Linked DNA regions of Homo sapiens. The protein of the gene in region 1 purifies or fractionates together with the protein of each later gene. This does not show direct contact. Each region holds a gene or a part of one and is shown in the gene's direction. Other genes may lie near its edges. The genes, in order: ERAP1, SLC16A10 and STARD10.

Region 1 (3,650 bases):
TGCACCATTATCCCCACTCACATGTGAACAAAGGGAGTTGGCAGATGATGCTAATTTGCCCCATCGGGAGGTCTGGCTACTGATAGAAAATAAGGGCCTCAGTGGGCTCAGAGCATAAGCAATCACATTAGACAAATCTCCTGCCTAAACAGGTCCAGGTTTAACCTGCTTACTCTGTTTCACAAATTGCCAGACATTAACAGTGTTCCTGCAGTTGCGTTTTCAAAGAAATGTGTTTTATTGCAAAAGAATATGTGATTTCAGATGAGACTGCAATGAAACTATAGATAACAATTATTTCTATTATCTTTTCAGGGAGCTTGTATTCTGAATATGCTAAGGGAGTATCTTAGTGCTGACGCATTTAAAAGTGGTATTGTACAGTATCTCCAGAAGCATAGCTATAAAAATACAAAAAACGAGGACCTGTGGGATAGTATGGCAAGTGTGAGTATGTTTTTGAATATCTCTGCATTTGGGATTGACAGGCTTATCATCTTGTTTTGTTTTCCCTGCATTATGTTAATCCCTCTGAGGAGAATCATTGTTTTCTATAGAAATAAGAGTGATGTGTTTATTTTTGGTTTTTAGATTTGCCCTACAGATGGTGTAAAAGGGATGGATGGCTTTTGCTCTAGAAGTCAACATTCATCTTCATCCTCAGTAAGTTTCTATATCTGTACATGTTCCCCCAAGCACATTCTTTTACTGCATATTCTTTGAAAGGCAGCTCTGTGCCAAACTTTCTGAGGTCCTTGATTATATCACCCTCATTCCAGATAAGACTGCATTTAAACTATTCCATACTCATAATCTTTTTCAATTTTTCTTAAAGTGTATCTATACTGGAGGGTTGCAGAGCTTTCCTTGGTAATGCTTCTCACTGATACTAATTTCTCTAGCTTCCCTTTTAAAGCAGTGGATTTATGACATGTTTCTATAGCAGATTACAGCTGCATTGTAGCAGTCAAAAGGATATGTCAGTCATTTACAGAGCTCTGCATTTGTACAAAGACAATGGCACTGAGCATTCTTGAATACTTGTCATGTGTCAGGCACATGTTAAGCACTTATATGTATTATCTCCTTTACTCTTCATAATAAACCTGTGAGCTGGGTACTATTACTATCCCTATTTTTAAAGTTGAGAACATGAAATACAAAGACATCTGATTGGTAAATTGCAGAGCAGAGATCTGAATTTAGATCTAACTCATGTTTTTAACTGCTAAGCTATAAAGTATTCATAACATCAAGTCACAAAACAGCCTGAGTCTCTGTTCATCTGGACTTGTGGGATGTTTTCAGAGGAAGCTGAGGGTGAGTCTGGAGATACAACAGAATTTTTTGTTTCTTTTTTCTTTTTATATGTTTACTTTCTTGGCTTTTTTGTTCCTAGAGACTGCTTTATTCAGTAGTTTCTAGATTTGTCCTGTGGCACATTTTATCTTTTTACTAATTCTTTTTTTTTTGAGACAGAGTCTCACTCTGTTGCCCAGGCTGGAGTGCAGTGGCGTGATCTCGGCTCACTGTAGCCTCTGCCTCCCCGGTTCCAGCGATTCTCTTGCCTCAGCCTCCCAGGTAGCCGGGATTACAGGCACACGCCACTACACCCGGTTAATTTTTGTATTCTTAGTAGAGATGAGGTTTCACCATGTTCGCCAGGCTGGTCTTGAACTCCTGACCTCAGGTGATCCACCCAACTCAGACTCCGAAAGTGCTAGGATTACAGGCATGAGCCACCGCGCCCAGCCTTTACTACTTCTTAAATCATTTCTTAAAAGCTTTTTTAGTATCAAAAAACAGCTCCTTTTGAGTTCCCACTATTTGTTGAGTGTGGGTCATCTCTGTGTTCTCACTTTAGAAACACAGGCTCTTGACTGAACATTGTTTCCACCTTGCTTGTCCAAAACCAGCATAGTTAGGTAGGTATTGAAAACCTGGCACTTTCTCTCCCTTCTCTTCCTTCATTCATTCACATGCCTGCTTTGTGCCCAGTGTTATTGCCAGCCCCAAAGTGTGCCCGGCAGAACTAGGTATGCTACCTGTCCTCCAGACACGTATGTGTAGTGGAGGAAAATGACAAGCAAACAGCTGGTGCTCTAATGGAGGTGTGATGGCTGGGGACATCACACTGAGAAAGGGATCAGAAAGTGCTCCTAAGAGGGGAGGTTGGCAACTGGTAGCGGCTGTTTGAGCATAAGCTGGTGTTCTCTCTTTTCTTAGAGTTGGGTTAAATGGGTGATGTGTCTGCCTTTTTGTGTACACACCAGCATTGGCATCAGGAAGGGGTGGATGTGAAAACCATGATGAACACTTGGACACTGCAGAAGGGTTTTCCCCTAATAACCATCACAGTGAGGGGGAGGAATGTACACATGAAGCAAGAGCACTACATGAAGGGCTCTGACGGCGCCCCGGACACTGGGTAATGCTCCTAGAGTAAAATTTGTTTTGTTGTCTAGGTAACATCTGCCTTGTAGGATGGAACCTTGCTTTTGAAATAATGCCCTTACCACTATTGCTAAAATATTTCAGCTGCATCTGTGTATCCTATGAAGTTGACTTATACTCCCTGCCCCCATCTTCCCAGTAGGATTAAGGAGGCTTTAAACCTTGGTTATTCTCAGTAAAGGTGACGATGTAATTACTTTAACATTCTCATATTTTGTAATTTGATATGATGGTAATTTCTGGTTACTGGCTTGAAATCAACTCCAACCTAAGCAACTGCTACTAGATTACAATAGTGCCTAGCATTTGGTTGGAGCTGAGGACAAAAGAATTTAGGTGATTTCCGAGAATGATGAGAGACTCAGTTGTCTTCTTCTGAGTTAGATTTGGAACCTGTTTGTCAGCTTAATGCTATAGAAGAATATTATTAGAAACAAGATGCTGCAACTTGATTGACCCTGGATGGATACCGTTAAAAAATTCTTTTATCTTGAAACAATTTCAGACTTATAGAGAAGTTACAAGAATAACACAACAAATTCCTATATATCCTTTACCTAGATACATGTTAACTCTTTACTCCTTTACTTTCTTCACCTCCCTCTCTCTCTTGCTCTCTCTCTCTCTCTATATATATATGTATATGTTTGTGTGGATATATGTGTGTGTGTATATATACATATATATGTGTATATATATACACACACATATATATATATAATATATACACCTCCCTCCCCCATCTTCCCAAAAGGATTAAGGAGGTTTTAAATCTTGATTAATCGATATCCATCTATCTACATACATACCTATATACATATGTCTGTATGTATATACTTGGCATATGTTTTTCTGAACTGTTTGACAGTAAATTGGTGACATGATTCCCCTTCACACCTAAATGTTTCAGCATAGTATTTTCTACAAAACAACATTTATGGCCGGTCACAGTGGCTCATGCCTTTAATACCAGGACTTTGGGAAGCCGAGGCAGGAGGATCACCTGAGGTTAGGAGTTCGAGACCAGCCTGGCCAACATGGTGAAACACCATCTCTACTAAAAATACAAAAATTAGCCGGGCATGGTGGCGGGCGCCTGTAGTCCCAGCTACTCAGGAGGGTGAGGCAGGAGAATCGCTTGTACCCAGGAGGTGGAGGTTGCAGTGAGCCGAGATCGCACCACTGCACTCCAGCCT
Region 2 (3,750 bases), on another chromosome or scaffold:
GAGAGATTTGTCTATTCTCTCCTCATTATTTATTTAATCATTTACTTACATCAGTACTGACTCGTGGATAATTCTTACATATGTGTTTGTTTGTGTGCATGCAAATATATAATCGATGTGCTTTCTTTGCCCAATAATATGTTGTGGACAACTTTCAAAGTCAATAAATACAGATGACCTTCAGAACTTTTAGAGGTTTTAAAGTAAGTATCTAATCAGTCTTCTACCAATGTACATTATACTTCCAAATTTTCCTTATTTCCAACAATACTGGGGTATCATCTTCATACATACATTTTTGTGCACTTATGTGCCTATTCCTTTGTTTACTATTTTACCCTCATTTCTAAGGCAGATTACACTTGAGCTATGTTCCCCATTCCACAACCAAGCACGGCTTGCTTTCCTTAGTTTATGCTATTTTCTCTACCTGGAATGCTCTTTTCCTGTCTTGACCCACTGAAGTCGTATGTATGAATCAGGGCTTCGGCCAAAGGCTGTTTGCTGTAGAGGCTCTTCTACAGTGTTTGGAGAGAATTTAAGGGACTATCTCATCTCTCTCTTTTGTACATGTATTATAACACATCATCTGAGCCTCCTAGTCTCTCCCAGGACTCTTTTTTCCTACCAGTTTATCAACTGATAAGAGGCAGAAACGAGATCAATCGCACTCATCTGTGTACTCTATCACAGTGGTGGGCACATCAAGTAACTAGCATATTTTGACTTTGATTGAAGTGAAGAATACGAATAACAGAAATTAAGAAGCATCCTCAATATTGCATAGCAGGTTACTCTTCTTTTCTTTTACATAGGATGGCACTCCATGCTTCAGGGAGACAGAGGAGTTGAATACAGGTTTTAGTTTTTGTTTAAAGTGAAAACGACTCTGATGTAGTTGAAAAGTAATGCTTTCTAGCTGTCTGTTAAAAATGTTTGTTGGTTGAAGACTTCGGAATTGCAGTCCAGTGAGGACTGAAAATAAGCATCTTTGGTGTGCCAAATATTCATAAGGAAATTGTATACGAATGCAAGAGAATGGAACTGAAGTAATAAAATAAGGGCTCTGATCCTTCAGATGACTTATTTAAGAAGCCAGGTGGCATAACGAATCTTACATATTATAATTAGTACTGAGAGGTGAATGCCAAAACATAAAACAAACACAATCGAGACAATGTTAGTGTGACTGTGACGCTGTGTCGGTGAGTTGAGGCTAACGATCCAGTGTGGCTCTCCTGAAGGCCCACCGCGCCCGCACCTAGGAGACGCGCCCCTTCTGCTCATGCTTTGAGGCGGGGTGACCCACACATCTGTGCCCCTCTCTGAGCAGGAGGAGGCCCCGTCGCAGACGCGCGCGCAGACAGCGTCTGCCGCGGGCACCTGGGGCCGCGCGCCGCGGGGCGCCCCGCCTCCGCTCTCCGAGGCCCAATCATCTGGAGGCTGTGGGGGCACGTCCCGCTCCCGGCCACGCCCCCAGCCGGCGGGGCGGGGGGTGCTTTTAAGAACCGGCGGCTGGCAGTGGGCTCAGTCGGGGGTGCGGGGCTGTGACCTAGAGGCTTCAGTGTCGATCCCCGAGGTGTTCGCGCGCGCCAGCTGTCCTCGCGGCCGCCTGCGCGCTGGCCGCCTGCGCGCTGCCAGCCCGCCCGCCCGCCAGGGGCTCCGCCGCCCTCGCCTCGGCCTCGTTAGCCCGCCAGGAGCCCCGCAGCTCCTCCGGGAGCCCGCTGGTAACTCGCGTCCCTCGCGCTTCTCCGGCGCCTGAGGGGCCCGCCTCGGGCCATGGTGCTCTCCCAGGAGGAGCCGGACTCCGCGCGGGGCACGAGCGAGGCGCAGCCGCTCGGCCCCGCGCCCACGGGGGCCGCTCCGCCGCCCGGCCCGGGACCCTCGGACAGCCCCGAGGCGGCTGTCGAGAAGGTGGAGGTGGAGCTGGCGGGGCCGGCGACCGCGGAGCCCCATGAGCCCCCCGAACCCCCCGAGGGCGGCTGGGGCTGGCTGGTGATGCTGGCGGCCATGTGGTGCAACGGGTCGGTGTTCGGCATCCAGAACGCTTGCGGGGTGCTCTTCGTGTCCATGCTGGAAACCTTCGGCTCCAAAGACGATGACAAGATGGTCTTTAAGACAGGTGAGGCGCGGCGCCCGCCGAGGCCAGCCTGGGCGACCCGCGTGGGGCCCCCGAGCGCATCCCGCGTGTGGGCTGTGTCTGCCTCCGAGTGTGCATGTCGGTGGGTCCCTGTGCCAGAGGGTGCGAGCAGGGGGGTCTTTCGAGTTGCAGACAGAGCCTGCCGCTTCTGGGGCCTCGGGGTGCCCGTCTTTATATGGAATCCAGCTGCAGAGCTGTGTGTTTGCAAGCAGGTCGCAGAACTTACTTGCCGAGATCGTCCTCCTTTCCCCTCAGCAGAGCAGACGCTAACAGTCCACAGGAGCCCTTCCTTTTATTGTTTGAAAACAAACAGAACCCCAGAACCTTCAACCCCAGTCATCGCCCTGTCATTTTTGTGGTCTCTTTCGTGACTATGCCAGTTATGTAGTTCTTCACCTGCCTCCCTGGGCCGCAGAGGGGTGTGCGTATGTTGGCGGGGCGGGGGGTGGAGTTTGGAGGAATGAAAGAGATTTGTACGAAGGTCACTGGAGTTCCAAAGGGGGCCCTGCAAGAGTCACGGTTCCGTGCGTTCCCGTCCCCCCGCCTTTTTTTGCCCTCTGGGTTAAATGTAGAAAACACGGGAGGCAGCCGGATTAGGGACTAGGATGAGGAAGGTGAAGGGTTGCTTCTTCCCTCTTCCTGTTGTGTTTTTTGACATTTTTTTTTAACCATATAGTAAATTAGATACAAAAGGTGCAGATTCAGCGTTTTCTCCCTGTAGAGCATTATTATGACTTTTTGGCTGGTTAGGCAAAAAACAAATCTAAGACCTTCTGCATGACACTTTAACATAAATTCTTTCACTTTATCCTGCAAGGTGAGCGCGGTCAACCCCATTTGGGTGAGAAAACTGTAGCTCAGTGAAAGTGTCTTGGTGGGTAGTAGAATGGCAATAAAACACATATCAACTGACTTCAAGGGCTAAGTGATTTCCATTACTAAATCAACCTCCCTCCCCATCATTTGGGGTAACTTTATATGATTAATAGTCTTTTTTTTTAACCTTGATTTTCTATTATTTTTAGAGTGAATATTTCTTAGGTCTTTAGTATGCATATGAGGAATGGGCAAGACTGTAATAAATTCTGAGACAAAGGTAATGCTGGGTTATGCTGAGAGTTTTAAAACCTGACATAAATACTATTAAACTATTTGTATCATTCTGCAACTTACTTTTCTTCCATTCCGCATCATGTTTGTGACTTATCCACATAATACCTCAGTGTGAACTGATAACTCAAATTCTTTCCATTTTAACTTAGGTGGTTTGCATTGTTTGACTATATTATACTCTATGCATTCTCCCTCTGATGGGCATTTAGATTGCTTCCAAACTCATTCTAAACAATGCTGCAATGAATATTCTTGTACACTCTCGTTATGCATGTGAATACGGTACCATTTTAACCTGGAATTTCTGTTCTTTAAATAGCTATTGAAACTGCTGTGGTATGCGGGTCAATGGGCTAGGTACAAAAAGTGTTAAAAATGTAGTAACATATCCTTACCATTTAAGGGAAGTAATCATTGTAAAGTTTAGCAGGGGAGATATGCATATATAATAGCAAACAAAAATAGTTTGTTGTCTTTTCTATATGAGTATTGGGTGT
Region 3 (3,650 bases), on another chromosome or scaffold:
CCTGACTTGAGTTACTCCAGGTGGGAGACTGGGCCCTTCTCTCCCTGATTCCTGGTTCTCAGCCTGAGCTGGGTCTCCTTCCCCGCTTTCTGCACCCTGGGTTGCCCAGGACCCGATTCCTTACTGCCCGATGCCCTGCTCTTGCTCTTTCCCTTCCCTCCCTCCCTGGCTGCTCCCTTAGCCTCCTGCAGGGACTCAGGATTGTGGCTGGCAGATCCTGAAGGCAGGGCTCCAATACCCCTGCCTTGCACAGAGCCAGGCTACAGGTGGGCTGGGGAAGGAAGGGGCCTGGGGTCAAGGGAAGCCAACATAGGGAGCAGTTGCAGACACATCAGTCGCTCACAGCCATCTCCCCTGCTCTTCCCAACCCCACAATTCTCCTCTCTTTGCCGTGCAGGGCAGGCTTGGGGTTTGGGACCCTGGGAACGCATATCCCCCAGGGGACCAGATGGGGCAGGGGCTCGTGAAGACTCTGGTTTAAGGGCCTCAATAGCTGCCCCCAACACATCTGATGTTGCTGTGGGTGCTGCATTTCCAGGGCTGGTAGGTCCCCTTGCAATGGGCTCTGGCAATAGGCTGTGCCCTTCGCCTTCCTCTTCCTTGCCTTCTCCCTTCTGCTATCCTCCTGGAAATGTGGAGGAGTCCACCCTCCCCTTCTGCCTGGGACCTAGTCTCAGACTTAGTTCAGGCATGTATCTTGGCCCCTTACCAAGACCTGAGATGTCTGACCTTTCCCCTCTGACCCTGAGCCCTTCTGCCTCACTTTGTCTTAATCATTTACATATAGTTCTGTCCATCCCCACACGATTATCTGCTTTTCACTTTCTGCCTCCCCTTCTCCCCTCTGACTCTGTCTGCACCTTGGCCATCTGACTGTTTTTCCCTCTGGGTTTCCATGTGTGTCTCCCACTTTGGGATTCGCTGCCCAGGGCCTCAGAACCTGTGTCTGAGCCTGAGGAGCAGGGATGGGGAAGGCAGCTGGCATGTCCCAGCTGGTTGTTCCCTGAGAGCAGGGACAGGTCTCCTATCCTTTTTTCTTTTTTTTTTGAGAAGCCTCACTCTGTCTCTCAGGCTGAAGTGTAGTAGCGAGATCTTAGCTCACTGCAATCTCCACCTCCCAGGTTCAAGTGATTCTCCTGCCTCCCAGCAGTAGCTGGGACTGCTGGTGCACACCACCACACTCAGCTAATTTTTGTATTTGTAGTAGAGATAGGGTTTCACCACATTGGCCAGGCTGGTCTTGAACTCCTGACCTCAAGTGATCCACCCGCTTCAGCCTCTCAGGTCCTGTCCTCTTTGCGTCCCCAGCATCCAACACAGTTAGAGCAGGGATATTGGTGGAAGAGAGGGGGGAGGAAAGAACCAAGGAACAAATTGAATGAAAGGTGAGAAGGGAATTCACGAGAGCCTGACTGTGACCTGGGAAAGGCTTCAGGCGGGCAGTGCACACTGGGGGAGAAGTGTAGTTTCCCCACCAAGCTGGCACTCCAGAAAGTCAGAGGAGGAGGGGTCTGAACTGAGGCCAGTACTCCCACCCTCTGTGTCAATAGGGCGGAGCTACCTCCTCCATCTGGCTTGGTTAATGAATAAACCCTACCCAGCCCAGGCCTGGAATTGGTGGGTCTGGGGCCAGGCTGACTGCAACAGACCACTCGTGGCCAGATCAGACTTGTCAGGTGGCCTTCCTTGTGGGTGGCGGGGACTTGGAAAAACTGGGGTGTTGTAGGCTTCTGGACAGGCATACACCCTGGGCAGCCAGGACCCTACCCTCCTTTTCTTTCAGACTGAACAGATGTTGGAGGTGCCAAAGAGCCCTTGGTAATCCCTATGTCATACCCCTCCTGCCCCTGGGATGCAGGCAAGGATACTGGGGCTCAGAGAGGGGCAGGGACCTGCCTAGAGTCACACAGCTGTCTCAGCAGAGCTGGGTCTGGAACCCAGATCTACAGCATCTTGGCAGTCCTCCTGCCTTGCTTCTCCCTGCAGGGTGCCTCCCCAGCTTTGCTCCCTACAATGGAGAGAGGGTGGGGAGAGGAGGTGAGCAGAGCCCAGACCCAGGAAGGAGGCTGGGACCCTGGTTATGGGCACCCCAAGGTGCCAGCTCCCACTCCTGATCCTCTCAGCACAGCTAGTTGGAGCTCTGGGAGAGATGGACAGAGGCCTGTGAGCTTCCCATCCCCAAGATTGCAGGACTCCCAGGTTCCATGCAGATAATCCCATTTCTGATAATGAGAGCCCTGCTCTGAGCCAAGCATTTCTCCCCATCATCTAATTTACCCCGAGGCTAGTCTGGGGCAGTGTAGTCTTGTCTCTGTGTTACAAACAAAGAAACTGAGGCTGAGTGAGGTAATGTTATTTGCCTAAGGTCATGCCACAGCTGAGGCAAGAGTGGAACCCATGCCAGCCTGGCTCCAGAGCCCCTGCCCCTCTCCACATGGGCTCGCATCTTAGTCAACACTGTGGCCTTTAACCCCATCAATAACTCTTTGAAGGCCTGGAGGACGCGTTGTTCTCATCATCCTATTCTTGTTTGATGGATGAGAAAGCCGAGGCCCACAAAGGGGAGTGGCTTGCCAAGGTCACCCAGCAGGTCTGGAGCCAGAATCCCTGGGGATGACTGGGTCACTCCAGGAGGCTGGGACTCAACTGCAGGTGTTTGCTGAGCTTCTGCCCCCCTTTCCCCCTCCCCTCTCCTGCCTCAGCCTGCTCTGGGCCTGTCCCCAGAGCTGGGAAAGCCAGCTGACCCCTGGACATGCCCCGTGCTCCTGATCCCAGGGTGGGGGTGGGACTCCACCTAGCTATCTACCTGATTCAATTCCTCTTCCTCATCTCTCTTCCCCTTACCTGGGTCCAGAGGTCCCTGGAAGCCACTGTGGCTCAAGGCCCAGTAGTTGGAGCCAGGACAAAGAGAAAGGGGCTGTTGGAGGCCACCTCCACCCCTTCCCTCCCTCCTGGCCTCCAGCCTGACCTGGCCCCAGGGCTGCACTGTGCTCTGAATACTGGAAAAGAGACAGACACTACCTCCTGACAGTTCAGTCCCTGTCCCAGGGACAGATGCTGAATGTGGATCCTGGGTACAAGGCAGGGGGCAGCTTGGAGCCTGAACTCAGGTCTCTCAAAGCCCAGGTCAGCTTCCTCATGGCACCTGTATTGGTGTGAGAAACGGGAGACCAAGAGCTTCTGTCAGTCATTCAACCAGGGCCAGCTGGGGTCCAGTCCTGGCTGTTGCATGTGACCTTGGGCACATTCCTGCCCCTCTCTGGGCTGCTTGCCCGTCTGTGCCATTGGGCCCTCTTGGCTCCAAGAGCCTCTGAACTCAGCACCCAGCTGGGGAGAGATGAGGAGCAGGCAGACAGCAGAGGACGTGGCCTGTGAGGCCCTGGCCTGGATGCTCACGTGCTCTGTTCTCCTGAGGCTGGCCGCATGAGAGGCAGGGGAGACCTGCGTATCTCCTCAGAGGTCTTCAGACCCTGGTGGAGAGAGGACAGACAGTTCCAGGTGACCTCCTACCCACTGCACAGGCAGCCTTGGGGCAGGAATGAGGCCTGATAAGAGCCTGAGCCCATGACAGGAGAGACCTGGCCCTGGAGCAGGTGTGGGAGGGGGTGTGGCTGAGAGCCTGAGGCTCTGCTGGCCACAGGAAGCTGGGC

What was found.
Region 2: the proteins of ERAP1 (region 1) and SLC16A10 purify together in Homo sapiens (affinity purification with mass spectrometry; one large-scale study listed by BioGRID and IntAct). This does not show direct contact.
Region 3: the proteins of ERAP1 (region 1) and STARD10 fractionate together in Homo sapiens (co-fractionation; one large-scale study listed by BioGRID). This does not show direct contact.

The regions. Positions count from the first base shown.
Region 1 is NC_000005.10:96,787,309-96,790,958, reverse strand, and holds part of ERAP1 (endoplasmic reticulum aminopeptidase 1 isoform b precursor), read left to right. Parts: intron 1-315; coding exon 316-447; intron 448-591; coding exon 592-663; intron 664-2,273; coding exon 2,274-2,428; intron 2,429-3,650. UniProt on the Homo sapiens protein: Aminopeptidase that plays a central role in peptide trimming, a step required for the generation of most HLA class I-binding peptides.
Region 2 is NC_000006.12:111,085,974-111,089,723, forward strand, and holds the start of SLC16A10 (monocarboxylate transporter 10), read left to right. Parts: upstream 1-1,529; 5' UTR 1,530-1,779; coding exon 1,780-2,122; intron 2,123-3,750. UniProt on the Homo sapiens protein: Sodium- and proton-independent thyroid hormones and aromatic acids transporter.
Region 3 is NC_000011.10:72,776,982-72,780,631, reverse strand, and holds part of STARD10 (START domain-containing protein 10), read left to right. Parts: intron 1-3,650. UniProt on the Homo sapiens protein: May play metabolic roles in sperm maturation or fertilization. Phospholipid transfer protein that preferentially selects lipid species containing a palmitoyl or stearoyl chain on the sn-1 and an unsaturated fatty acyl chain (18:1 or 18:2) on the sn-2 position.